3 separate regions of the Homo sapiens genome follow, and regions 1 and 3 are each linked to region 2. The links come from fine-mapping of genetic effects on gene expression. A gene starts in region 2. Each other region holds a variant in brackets. All regions are shown on one strand. Distances are from middle to middle. Region 1 overlaps CFAP92 (cilia and flagella associated protein 92 (putative)). Region 2 holds the start of CFAP92 (cilia and flagella associated protein 92 (putative)). Region 3 has its middle 4.3 kb from the start of MIR12124.

Region 1 (4,241 bases), 64 kb before region 2:
AGTCAAAGCAATTTTGAAAAAGAACAAAGTTAAAGGACTTACACAATCCAACTAACTAACTATAATTAAAGTCATCAAGACAATGTGTTGCTGGTATATGGAGAGGCATATAAGTTAATGGAACATAGTTTAGAACTCAGATATACACCCTTACATTTATGGTCAATTCTTGACAAAAAGATGCTAAGTCAATTTAATGGGGGAATAGCTAGTCTTTGCAAGAAATGATGTGAGGACAACTGGATATCCATATGCAAAAAGATTAATTTAGACCCTTACATTGGACCTCAAAAAAAATGGTTCACAGATCTAAATGTGAGAGCTAAGAGTAAGTGTAAGAGAAAGGATATGAAATGATCTTCGTAACTTTAAGCAGAGTCCTTAACTATAACACCAAAAGCATGATTGCTAACAGAAAAAACATAAATTGGAATTTATTAAAATTAAGAACTTTTATACTTCAAAATTTTCTTATACCATTAAGAAAAAAAAGAAAAGCCACAAATATGGAGAAAATATTTGCAAATCATATTTCTCATTAAGTACTTGTATCCAGAATATATAACAACTCAACAATAAAAAGACAACTTGATTTTAAAATGGATAAATGATACAGATGGCCAGGCACAGTGACTCATAACTGTAATCCCAGCACTTCGGGAAGCCAACGTGGGAGGACTGCCTGAGCCCAAGGGGTTCAAGACCAGCCTGGGTAACACAGTGAGACCCTGTCTCAATTTGAAAAAAGAGATTAATTCAAAAAGATACAAATATATATTACATCAAAGAAGCGTTATAAATTCCTAATAAGCACATTAAAAGATATCTAGCATCGTCAGTCATTATAAAATGCAAATTAAAATCATGAGATACACACTAGAATGGCTATAATCAAAAGGACGGATAAGTGTTTGTATGAATGCAGAGAAACTAGAACCCTCATGCATTGCTGGTAGGGATGTTAAGATTGTGCAACTACACTGTAAAAACCGCTTTTCTTACAATGTAATTTCTTAAAATCATAAATATAAACCTACCTATATGACCCAGCAATTCCACTCCTAGGTTCTACCCAAGAGAAATGAAAACATATTTTCACGTAATGATTTGTATGCAAATGTTTATAGGAGCAATATTTATAATAGCCCCAAGCAAGAAATAATAGTAATTCCAAAAAGTGGTGAATGGATAAATGTGGTACATCAATTCAATGGAATAATATTTAGCAATAAAAAAAGAACACACCGCTGATATATTCAGGTACGTGGATGAACCACAGGAACTTTATGCTCAGTGAAAGAAGCCAGACACAAAAGTTTACATAATTATATGGTTCCAATTACCTGAAATATTCAGACAAGTCAAATCTATCAAGACAGAAAGTAGATCAGTGGTTATGTGGGACTAAGAATGGAGCAGAGATTGACTGTAAACTAGCATGAGAATACTTTTTGTGGTGATGGAAATGTTCTAAAACTGGATTGTGATGATGGTGTTATAACTATAAATTTACTAAAAACTACTGATTTATATATACTTACAATAGGTGAATTTTATGGTATGTAAATTATATCTCAAGGTGTAAAAATGTGAAAAAATTAAATTATGGTTGGGTTTCAATTATTATAGTATGAATAGGAAATTTAAAGCCATTTTAGAGTAGCCATATCTAAGATAATAGGAACATGATTTTTTAAAAAGCTGGAACAATATTTACAAGAGATTTTAGCAAATTTGTAAGAGATAGGGGGCTAGTAAATAAATTGTATACTACTATATTATAAAATTCTCCATATTATTGCATTTTTTTTGAGATGGAGTCTCGCTCTGTCGCCCAGGCTGGAGTGCAGTGGCGTGAATTTGGCTCACTGCAACCTCTGCCTCCTGGGTTCACGCCATTCTCCTGTCTCAGCCTCCCAAGTAGCTGGGACTACAGGTGCCCGCCACCACGCCCAGCTAATTTTTTTGTATTTTTAGTAGAGATGGGGTTTCATTGTGTTAGCCAGGATGGTCTCGATCTCCTGATTTCATGATCCGCCTGCCTCAGCCTCCCAAAGTGCTGGGATTACAGGTGTGAGTACTGTGCCTGGCCCTGCAAAATCTTTAAAAACCCTTCCTCATGGCCAGGCGTGGTCACCTGTAATCCTAGCTCTTTGGGAGGCTGAGGTGGATCACTTGAGGCCAGGAGTTCGAGACCAGCCTGGGCAACATGGCGAAACCCCATCTCTACTAAAAATACAAAAATTAGGCAGGCATGGTGGTGTGTGCCTGTAATCCCAGCTACTCAGGAGGCTGAGGCAGGAGAATCACTTGAGCCTGGGAGGCAGATACCGCAGTG[A/T]GCCGAGATCACGCCACTACACTCGAGCCTGGGCATCAGAGCAAGACTGTCTCAAAAATAAAAATAAATTTAAAACACTTCCTTGTTATGTGGCATTAACAAAATTATATTAACCCATGAAATGAATATATATTCTTGTACATATCTAAGTGCATTAAGAGGTAGGATAAGGAAGACTGCAAATACTCTCAACATTGTTTGACTTTTTTTGTTTGTTTGTTTTTTTGAGACAGGGTCTCATTCTGTTGCTCTGAGTGCTGGAATGCAGTGGCGCGATCTTGGCTCACTGCAACCTTACCTCCCAGATTCAAGTGATTCTCCTGCTTCAGCCTCCCAAGTAGATGAGATTACAAGTGTGCACCACGACACCCAGCTAATTTTAGTATTTTTAGTAGAGACGGGTTTTGCCATGTTGGCCAGGCTGGTTTCGAACTCCTGGCCTCAAGGGATCTGACCGCCTCAACCTCCCAAAATGCTGGGATTACAGGCATTAGGCACTGTGCCGCATTGAGACAGGGTCTCACTCTGCCATCCAGGCTGGAATGTAATGGCGTGATCTCAGCTCACTGCAACCTGTGCTTCCCAGGCTCAAGCTTCAGTCTCCTGAGTAGCTGGGACTACAAGTACATGCCAGCATGCCCAGCTAATTTTCTGTAGAGACGGTTTCGCCATGTTGCCCAGGCTGGTCTCGAACTCCTGAGCTTAAGCAACCTGCCCACCTCGGCCTCCCAAAGTGGTATGAGATATATATATGTGTGTATATATATATACACATACATGTATATATATGTATGTATGTATATGTATATATGTATATATATGTATGTATGTGTATATATATATATATATTACACAAGAGAAATAAAAATGAATGAAATAGCCAACTAGAGAAGATAGAAAAAAGGAGAAAGGTGTAAGTTTTAAAGTATCATAAAAATAAAAGCTGAAGTTAATGAATTAGAAAAACAGAAAAAGCAGAATTGATAAATCCAAGAACTGATTCTTTTGAAAAAGCTAAAAAGTTTTTTCCACTAATGGAAAAAACAGCCAGGCACAGTGACTCACACCTGTAATCCCAACACTTTGGGAGGCCGAGGCAGGAGAATCCCTTGAGCCTAGGAGCTGGAGACCAGCCTAGGCAACACAGCAAGACCCAATCTCTAAAAAAAAAGTAAAAAAAATTAACCAGGTGTGGTGGCGCATGCCTGCCTACTCAGGAGGCCGAGGTGGGAGGACTGCTTGAGCCCAGGAGTTGGAGGCTGCAGTGACCCATGATCAAGTCATAGTACTCTAGCCTGGGCAACAGAGTGAGACCCCGATTCAAAAAACATAAAAGAAGTCTGTTCTTTGGTTTTCATAAAGACTGCACACATACAAAGCTTACAAGCTTCTAGGAGTCTTTGTTTTAAACTGGAGAATTGCAGGGATGGTAGGGCCTTCACACAGACCACAGGCACACAACTCCAAGTCATACCACAGATGTCTGTGTTTTCATGTCTTTTTGGTTGGCATGGGGTGAGCGAGGTTCTCCTTGCCCATTCAGGCCACACAGCACCAGCCTTCTACCCCCTCACCAGCTTCTCAGTCTCCCATTCTCTCCCTCTGTCATGCAGATTAGTTTATGTCCCATGTTGCTTGGACATCTTATGACACTTATGCCCTGAGCAGCGTAAGCAACATGTTACACACACACACACACACATGCCACAGTTCTTTCTCTACAATGAACTCTGGGAGCCATGGTAAAGGTAATATAGCTAATAGCATTCCTTCTCACCTTTCAGGAAGGACAAGGTTATCTAGGACTGGGAGTGAAGGTTTCTGACATGGCTCAGCCCCACATCCTGCACTTCTTGCCCATCCAGCAGGGTAGCCCAGGCCAGGAGCGCAGGCACGACCAGAG
Region 2 (4,241 bases):
CAGGGGTTCGAGACCATTCTGGCCAACATGGTGAAACCCAGTCTCTACTAAAAATACAAAAATTAGATGGGTGTGGTGGCGTGCACCTGTAATCCCAGCTACTTGGGAGGCTGAGGCACGAGAATTGCTTGAACCCGGAAGGCTGAGGTTGCAGTGAGCTGAGATCGCACCACTGCACTCCAGCCTGGTGACAGAGCAAGACTCCATCTCAATAAAAAAAGAATTATTATTTTTTTTTTTTTTGACAGAGTTTTGCTCTTGTTGCCCAGGCTGGAGTGCAATGGCGTGATCTCTGCTCACCACAACCTCCACCTCCGGGGTTCAAGAGACTCTCCTGCCTCAGACTCCCGGAAAATGTATTTTAAACAAGGTATTAGGTGATGCACAAGCGCTTATGAGAATCAATGCCTTAACCTCTCCATGGTTTTTTTTTCTTCTGTAAAAAGCAGACAGAACATCACCTGCTTTAGGGTTGTTGAGAGGATTAAGTATGTGAAGCTGATGCAGCCACAGTTGGGCCTCTCCTAAAATTGCTGTTTCTTTTCAACCTCTGCTCCTGGCTGGCACTGGCCAGCCCGCTTTGGGGTGGGGCAGGTGGAGAGAGGATGTGGGGTGTATGCGCCCTAAACTCCTGCAGAAAGTCATGCACCTCCTTTTTTCAGAGGGTGTTAAACTTCTGCTCTAGCACCTACCCATATTCACAGGGAAGGCCAGTGAGATGGTGAATTTGCAGGGGACCACGTGGGGCACGTCGGAGCTGAAAGTGCTGGCAGGCTCAGATGAGGACTCGATGCTGCTGCACGGGCGGTCAGAGTCAGACTCCTGGGCCCTGGCCTTGGCCTTCAGGTGTTCCTCCACGTCACACTCGCTCGTGGACTGGTAAAAGCTAGTGATGGAGGAGATGGGCTCTATGCTTGCGGGGTCCTCTTCCCACTCCCAGGCATGTAGCGACATGCTGCAGAGCGCACTGCTGGCCGCCGGCGCTCCTGGCAGGGAGAAAGTGAAGGCTGTCCCCGCCTGTATTCCAGGGCTGCTCCAGGAGGTAAGCCCGGCCTCCTGCAGAAGCACCCACCCTTCTCTTCCCTGCTTCCCCCGCCTGCTCCTAGATGAACGCCGGGGCTCCTTCACTGCCTGCCACACAGTCGGTACTCAATCGACTTAGAGAATGAATGGATGAAGGAACAACAGATAAGGGTGGCTGGCAGTAAGCACGACGACGAGCAACCCCGTTTCCTTCGCCTAACCAGGAGTCAGTCGCCGGGCTTCTGGAATGCCTGCCCCAGGTGAGCAGCTCCCGGGAGCCACCAGGCGGGAGAGGGGACGTCTGCTCAGGCAGGCCTGCTGCGCCTAAGCACAAGATGCGTTTGCTATTTGGGGAGAGGCAAACCAGGCCGGGGGCAGCACGTGCAGGAGCCTGGCGAGGTCGGGGAGGGCAAGCCCTGTCCCCAAGACAGAACATGAATGTGCACTGGGTGCTGGGCTCGGGGCATCAGCTCAGGCCCATGGAGGCGGAACGCCGGGCAAACGCCGAAGAGGGAACACGCATCGAGGCGAGGCGGGAAGAGTCCCGGGCTGCGGCGGCCGAGGTGGGGGCAGGGGTCGGGGTTCCCCTCCAGGTGCTGGCGGTACCTGCGAGCGGATGCGCTGGGCGGCAGCGGGGAGTTGGACCGCGGCGGCAACTCCCGTACCGGATCCACAGCCACCTGGGCGAAGAGACTCCAAGACTGAGAGGAGCGTCCGCCGGTGCAGGGAGGGCCGCAGGCCCAGCCACTCAGCTACGTTTGGCGGTTGCTAGGAGACGCGAGGGCGTGCGGCCTGGGGGCGGGGCTCCGCGGGGCGGGGCTTTCCCCCTCAGCCACTGCGCGCAGTTTGTCAAATGGCTACATCCAGGTTCAGAAACCAGCTGCCTTCATTCCTTCACTCATGCATTCACTCATTAAGGAGTTTCTACTCGGAACGTCAGCACCTACTATAAGCCTGGTCCTTGCCCGTACGATGGGAGGTAGGGGTTGATGGCTCCTTCCTCCCCCTCCATCAGCTCCCACCTCCCATTCTTTAATAAAAGCAAAGGAAGCTGTGGGCTCTGCAAACTCCAGACCTCCCCACGATCCCTCTCATTAGATTCTCTGCTTCTGTCGCCGATGTCCTTAAAAACCAGACCTCCCCACGATCCCTCTCATTAGATTCTCTGCTTCTGTCGCTGATGTCCTTAAAATAGCATGAGAATTCTTGTTAGTGATCATGAGCGCCAACTCAGAGATCAGAAAACAAAGCTTAGAGAGGTGAAGCGATTCGCCCGAGGTCACACAGCAAGTAGGGCGCAGCACTGTGTTGAAATCCGGACTGCCTGACTCCAAAGCCTCCGCTCGTCTGCTAAACCACCCAAGCTGAGAGCCCTGGCTGCGGCTCCTAATGTAGAGGACCTCAGCACAGCAAGCGGCTGGGACAGAGGGCTGGGGTAGGCCTCATGGAGGAAGTGAGCAACGCCAAATCTGGGGGGTGACTAGGCAGAGGCGGTGAAAGCAAGAGAAAGCATCCCAGGTAGAGGAACAGCATATGCAAAGGCCCATAGAGGTGAAAGGGCATGGCAAGTTTCAGGAATGGGTGGCGAGGCTGTAGCAGTGTGCAGGGCCCATGGTACATAGCCCCACAGGGCAGGTTAGGGCACAGGACTATGGGCAATGGGGAGCCAAGGCAGGTCTTCTGTTGAGGGAGGGCACCCTGCTCCGGCAGTCAGTTTGTTCAAGAGAATGGGAGCTGAGGCTACACACAAGCTTGGCTATTAAGAAAACTTTAGCTGAGTTGAGCTATGACCTACTTTGTGTCAAAGAGCAAAACTGTGGCGCAGCTGGGGCTGAGACCCAAGTCCTGAGCCTCCCAGTGCATGCCTCCCCAGACCGCTCTCAGGGCATGGGACAGCCCCTTTAATACTGGGTGCTCCAATACTCCTCGGGTTCAGTCTGAAAAACAGCCTCAAGTACAGCTGTTAGGGAAGACACCAAATGGCAGTGGGCCCTGTGAGGAGTGGGTTCAAACTCTTAGCACGAGAACGGCAACCACCTTGCCCACACCCCACCTGCAGCAGCCTGGAGACTGCTGTCTGTATGCCAGGAAGTGCTCAGGAGACACATGAAGGGCTGGAAGAATACAAAGCTACTCAGATACACCAGCCCCCAAAAGGGCCCTTTAACAAGGGCAGTTCAACACTACCACCACTCTTGGACAGACATCAGGCCTCCTGCTCCCCAGGTCCTACCCACTGGCCTGAGGCTGGTTTCCCTCCAAAGGTTCCTAGATCACATCACCACCTAGGACAGAAGCCAATCTCTTCCCAAGCTCAATAGTGAGAGGCCAGAGGTCTTGGACCAAGGGCCAATGTGCCATCCTGGATGTGCACTGGAAACACCTACATGTCAAAAATACAATTCTGAGGCTTCATTAAAGACCTGTGGAAGTGACTCTCCAGGGGTGGAGCTTAGAAACCAGTGGCAGATTGTATTTTCCAAAGACAGCCACCTCAAAAGATCCCCTCCCACATAATCTTCCGGCAGGCATTGTGAGGTTCACATTCCTCCCACCCAGTTGGGGGGTCTAGTCTCCTTCTCTGGAAACTGGGCAGACCTCTGTGACTGGCTCAGTCAAAAGAGTGCAGAGGAAATGACACTATGTGATTTCTGAGGCCAGGTCATATAAATTCCATCTACCTCTGCCCTGTTCTTTTGAGGTATAGTATTCATGCTAGGAATCCAGCTAGCATGTTGTGAGGAAGCCCAAGCAGCCATGTGAAATGGCCACATGAAACTGTTGTGACTGACGGTTCCCAGCCAATTGCAGCCTCAACCCCCAGACATATGAGAGTGCAAGACTTCAAATGATCCCAGCCCTCAGTCTTTGAGCCACCCTGGCTGACATTGAGGAACAGAAACAAGCTGTCTCCATCATGAGAAATTGTAGATTTATAAGCAAATTGTTGCTCTCTTAAACCACTAAGTTTTGGGGTGATTTGTTGTGCAATAAATAATAGGAACGGGAGCCATATTTTTAAATTACCACCAAGATTGTATTGCACAACCAGAATATGGAACCACTGCCCTGAGAGAGATGGTGTCTGGGTCAAGACCTAGGGCATCACAGGATGAAGTGAGGGCAAAGGTGTGCTACCCACTACTCAGGTATGAGACAGTGGTGGGTCTACAACCCTACCTCAGTGAAGATGGCTTCAGGGCTGGCAGATCAGAAGC
Region 3 (4,241 bases), 140 kb before region 2:
GTGCCACAAAAGGCTGGCACACTTCGTAAGTGTGGTGCTGAAGCCAAAGTCCAGGTATTTGATGTTGCCATCCTCATCCAGTAGGATGTTTTGTGGCTTTAGGTCTCCATGTGAGATGTTCTTTAAGTGGCAGTCCTGCAGTGTTGACGGAATCTGCCTGAACCGGGTGTGGGCCTCCTCCTCCTCCTCGATGTGGCTGTGGTGGCATATCTGGTGGTGCAGCTGTCCTCGTCCGACGCACTCCATCTCCAAATAGTCGGTGTCTATGGTGTCAGTCACCTGATGGAGCTGAATGTTCAGACGCTTGAGGGTCTCCGTGATACTGACCTCTCTGGAGAGTGATGCGGGGGAGCCAGCCTTCTTCGGGATGATTTCCATGGCTACCTGGGTCCCTGTCAGCATATGCTGGACCAGTGTGCCCTCACCGAACGTGCCCTGGCCGATGGTCTTGAGGATCCTACACTTTTGGATCTCTTCATCAAGTGCGTTGGAGGCTGATCCCTCCTCCGTGGTGCCTCCTAACTACCCTGACTACAAATCCTACCTCTGAACTATGCTAACTGAGGCACAACGCCAACTCCAATAACTAGGCTAGAGTCGCACAGGCTGCCTGGGGAGGGTGGAGACCGAGAGCCCTCTCCAGAGCCTGGTCTCCTTTGCCATGTTCCCTCTATCATTTTCCCTTGCACAGGAGAGGGGAGGGGTGTGCCCAGAAACTAAGAGCCACTCCCCTCCTTATCCTTTCATGACTCTTCTGGGGTCACACCCTCACCCTTGCCCACCCTGGAGCCCCCGTTTTGCTTTGAGGGGACCCGGGCCAGTGACTGTCGAATCACACCTGAGGCCCTGGGTGCATCAGTGGCCATGTGGGGGCAGCTAGGAGGTGTCCCCAGAGAGGCCCTGTGGTCATCCCCTGCTCTGCGGCTGTGTGCAGACCCCGGAGGCACAATCAGACTTCAGGGGCACAGCCAGAGGACACTTCCCCTCCACCGTCCCCTTTAGACTCTGCAGAATCCCTGGAGGATATCCAAGTGCACACAGTTTGTGCTCCCCAGCTACCCCGTGAGGGCACGCCCTGGATTAGTGTGAACAAATGGAAGCTGCTCCCGTGGGCAGGTCGAGTGCCTCTGGCACTCCGTTGGCTGCTGCCCACAAAGCTCCCGGCCATGGCCTCCCGGGGGGCTGCACTATCACTCTGGCTGCCTCCAAATGGAGAGAGGACTGCAGTGACCTGGGCGGGGTTAGGGGAGAAGGAGGTGGCAGGGCAGAGGAAGCAGGAGCACACAGGAGGAAGAGACAGTGCCCTGGGCCATATCTTCTCTCCTACCCTAACATGAGCCAAATTAGAACCATCTGGATGAAGAAAAGACAGAGAAGAGCAGGGCAGGGGAGAAGTGCCCCAGGAAACACTGTCCAGGCTTTTACATTCCACTAGGTGGGATGGAGGCGCCCTCTGATGTCCAGGAGGCTCCAGGCGGTCCATCTCACCCCTTCCTTTGGATAAGAATGCTTTCAAGGCCACACGGCTACCAGAAGCTTACTTGATTTGAATCCCATGCAGAGACCCCTCTGCCACTTTACACACTTCTGTCCTCCACTGGACAAGGCCTCCAGGCTGGGGGTGTCAGACACACAGCAGCGAGGGTGTCTTGCCCAGTTCTCCCATGCGGCCGTTGGAGCCCACACGTGGCTGACCTGTCATGTTTGTAGTGTTCTTGGACCTCAGGGCCTTCGTCCTCTCCATTCTAAGTACAGAAAGACATTTGACTGACATGGACTCCCTCAGGTGTTTTGCAATACGCAATACATTCTCATTGACTCTGGTCACCCTGCTGTGCACTGGATGTGAAAACCTCTTCTTCCTGTCCATCTCAGACTTTGGTCCTTTGAGCAACAACTCTCCATTCTCTCCCTCTTTCCCACCCCCACACCTGATACCCAGCCCCTGGTCACCATTGATCTACTCGCTACTTCTACGGGGTCAACATTTTTCGATCAAGACTTCCGTAACTTCATGTGGAATTTGCCTTTCTGAGGTGATGGAGATGCTAAGATTTGATCATTCCATGGTGCACACATCTATCTAATCCTCACATTATATCCCATAAATGAATACAAGCATAATTTTCCAATTAAAAATAATAATTAAAAAATAATAAACGGCTAGGTGCCATTGCTCACGCCTGTAATCCCAGCACTTTGGGAGGCCGAGGCGGGCGGATCACCAGGTCAGGAGATTGAGACCATCCTGGCTAATATGATGAAACCTCGTCTCTACTGAAAATACAAAAAATTAGCCGGGCGTGGTGGCAGGTGCCTGTAGTCCCAGCTACTTGGGAGGCTGAGGCAGGAGAATGGCGTGAACCCGGGAGGCAGAGCTTGCAGTGAGCAGAGATTGCG[C/A]CACTGCACTCCAGCCTAGGCGAGAGAGTGAGACTCCATCTCAAAATAATAATGATAATAATAATGAACATATGACTCAGAGACATTTTCTAAAAACAAAAAAAGAAACCAACAAAAGCATAATAAATAAAATAAAGTGCAGAAAAGGCAGCTTGCCCCCCACCCTCCGCTTGGTTTGTGTCTGGGCCGCAGCTGTCCCCTGGGTTTACTGGAGCCACTGTATTTCTCCATGCACAGTGGGTCTTTGGGGCCAGGAGGAAGCAAAATGTTTTTGAAGACAAATCTAGTGGCTCCCTGGCAGCCCTGGCTCTCTTCACAGGGAGAGGCTGAGGTCACACCATCTGATGCCCAGTGGAGAGGGTGCTGGCTTCCCGGGCTGTTCCCTGGGGACAGGTGACTCCTCCTGGGTCTCCCACATGGACAGAACTGACGTCCTGGGATGTTCCCTGGGGGCAGTTGACTCCTGGGCCGCTCCCACTGCTGCTGGTGCTCTGGATGGAGGGGGAGGCCACAGGGCCACACTCGGAGATGTGCTGGTATTGGGTCACATCACCTCCAGGCCCAGAAGGGGACAAGCAGGCAAGGTGGCTTCTCTGGGCATCTTCTGCCCTGGCCCTGGTCCTCCTTGGGTTGCTGGATTTCTGAAGTAAGGGTGGGAAAGGCCACAGTCAAGACCTTTTTCACCAAACATTCCAGCCCTTGACTCCCCTTTGGTTGGACAGAAAAGTTGGACTTAACTTTGGGGGATGGGGAAGGTCAGTGGGATCCCCAGGATTAGGTAGGTGGCCATGGAATAATTATATATATATTTTTTCCTACTGGGGATTCCTTGATGTGCCTAGAATGTCACGGCTACCAAGAGTCAGGTTGTTAGGGGGCCCAGGTGACTGGGGAGCAGCTCTATGTGTGGCCCAAGGGTTCCCTGGCCAGCATTGACCCAGGGGTCCCGCATCAGCTGGTCCTCTGTGGGTCATTCTCTGGGGTCAAGGATCAGAAATTTCTTGATAAATATTTCAATTCGGAAGGAATATAGACAGTACATATTTTCCTTGAGTATGTTTTTTTGAGGCTGAGAAGTTCTGCCTGCCAAATGGCAGGGCCCTGGCCCCATGTGGTAGACGGGAGAGCCAAGACCCACACGACCACTGCAGGGCTGTGATACTCGTGGCCCAGGAAGAGTTCTGGGGCAGCTTAAGGGGAGTCCCACCAAAGGCGCTCAGCTTCTGGCCTTGGGAATATGTGGTGCTGAAGCCAAAGTCAGCTCTTTTCATGTTGTGCTCTTCATGCAGGAGTCCTGCCACCCAGGTCCTGGCGGCTGACTTTGGTGGCAGTACTACAGGGCAGATAGTATTTGCAGAAACATGGCTTGAGCCTCCTCCTTCTCCATGTGGCCAGGCTGGAGTGTTTGGTGGAAAAGGTCTTCACTATGAGTATCACCATAGCTCAGTATGGGATGTCTGAGGTTTCAATGACATGATATGGCTTTATTATGATGGGACACTCAGGGCCTTCATGACGTCTACCTTTCTGTGTAGACTCAGAAGGCTGGGGGAGCCCCTAGTTATAGATTTTATTTTTACAGCCACCTGAGTCCCAGTGAGTTCGTGCTGGGTCAACTTCACCTCACCCAGGCTTCCCTGGGCCAATGGTCTTGAGGACTGTGGCATTTTTTTTTTTTTTTTTTGAGACGGAGTCTCGCTGTCGCCCAGGCTGGAGTGCAGTGGCTCGATCTCGGCTCACTGTAGGCTCTGCCCCCGGGGGTTCACGCCATTCTCCTGCCTCAGCCTCCCGCGCAGCTGGGACTACAGGCGCCTGCCACCTCGTCCAGCTAATTTTTTGTA

What was found. PIP is the estimated chance that this variant, and not a neighbour inherited with it, causes the effect. A credible set is the group of variants that fine-mapping cannot tell apart.
Region 1: its variant is the best candidate, but not a certain one, in a credible set for the expression of CFAP92 in transverse colon (GTEx, PIP 0.68).
Region 3: its variant is the best candidate, but not a certain one, in a credible set for the expression of CFAP92 in cerebellum (GTEx, PIP 0.59).

Annotation. Positions count from the first base shown.
Region 1 is chr3:128,928,358-128,932,598 of GRCh38, forward strand. All of the region lies in intron 12 of CFAP92 (cilia and flagella associated protein 92 (putative)), which reads right to left. Among named protein-coding and RNA genes, the nearest start is that of ACAD9, 51 kb to the left of the region's middle. RefSeq lists an enhancer at 3,857-4,241. The variant A/T (reference allele first, on the strand shown) is at 2,339.
Region 2 is chr3:128,992,351-128,996,591 of GRCh38, forward strand. It overlaps CFAP92 (cilia and flagella associated protein 92 (putative)), which reads right to left and starts at 1,726. Exons shown (of 16, transcript NM_001394090.1): 1 at 1,630-1,726; 2 at 693-986. The coding sequence starts at 954. RefSeq lists an enhancer at 394-1,155 and a silencer at 1,732-1,941.
Region 3 is chr3:128,848,941-128,853,181 of GRCh38, forward strand. It overlaps the pseudogene MARK3P3 and the pseudogene MARK2P6. Among named protein-coding and RNA genes, the nearest start is that of MIR12124, 4.3 kb to the left of the region's middle. The variant C/A (reference allele first, on the strand shown) is at 2,401.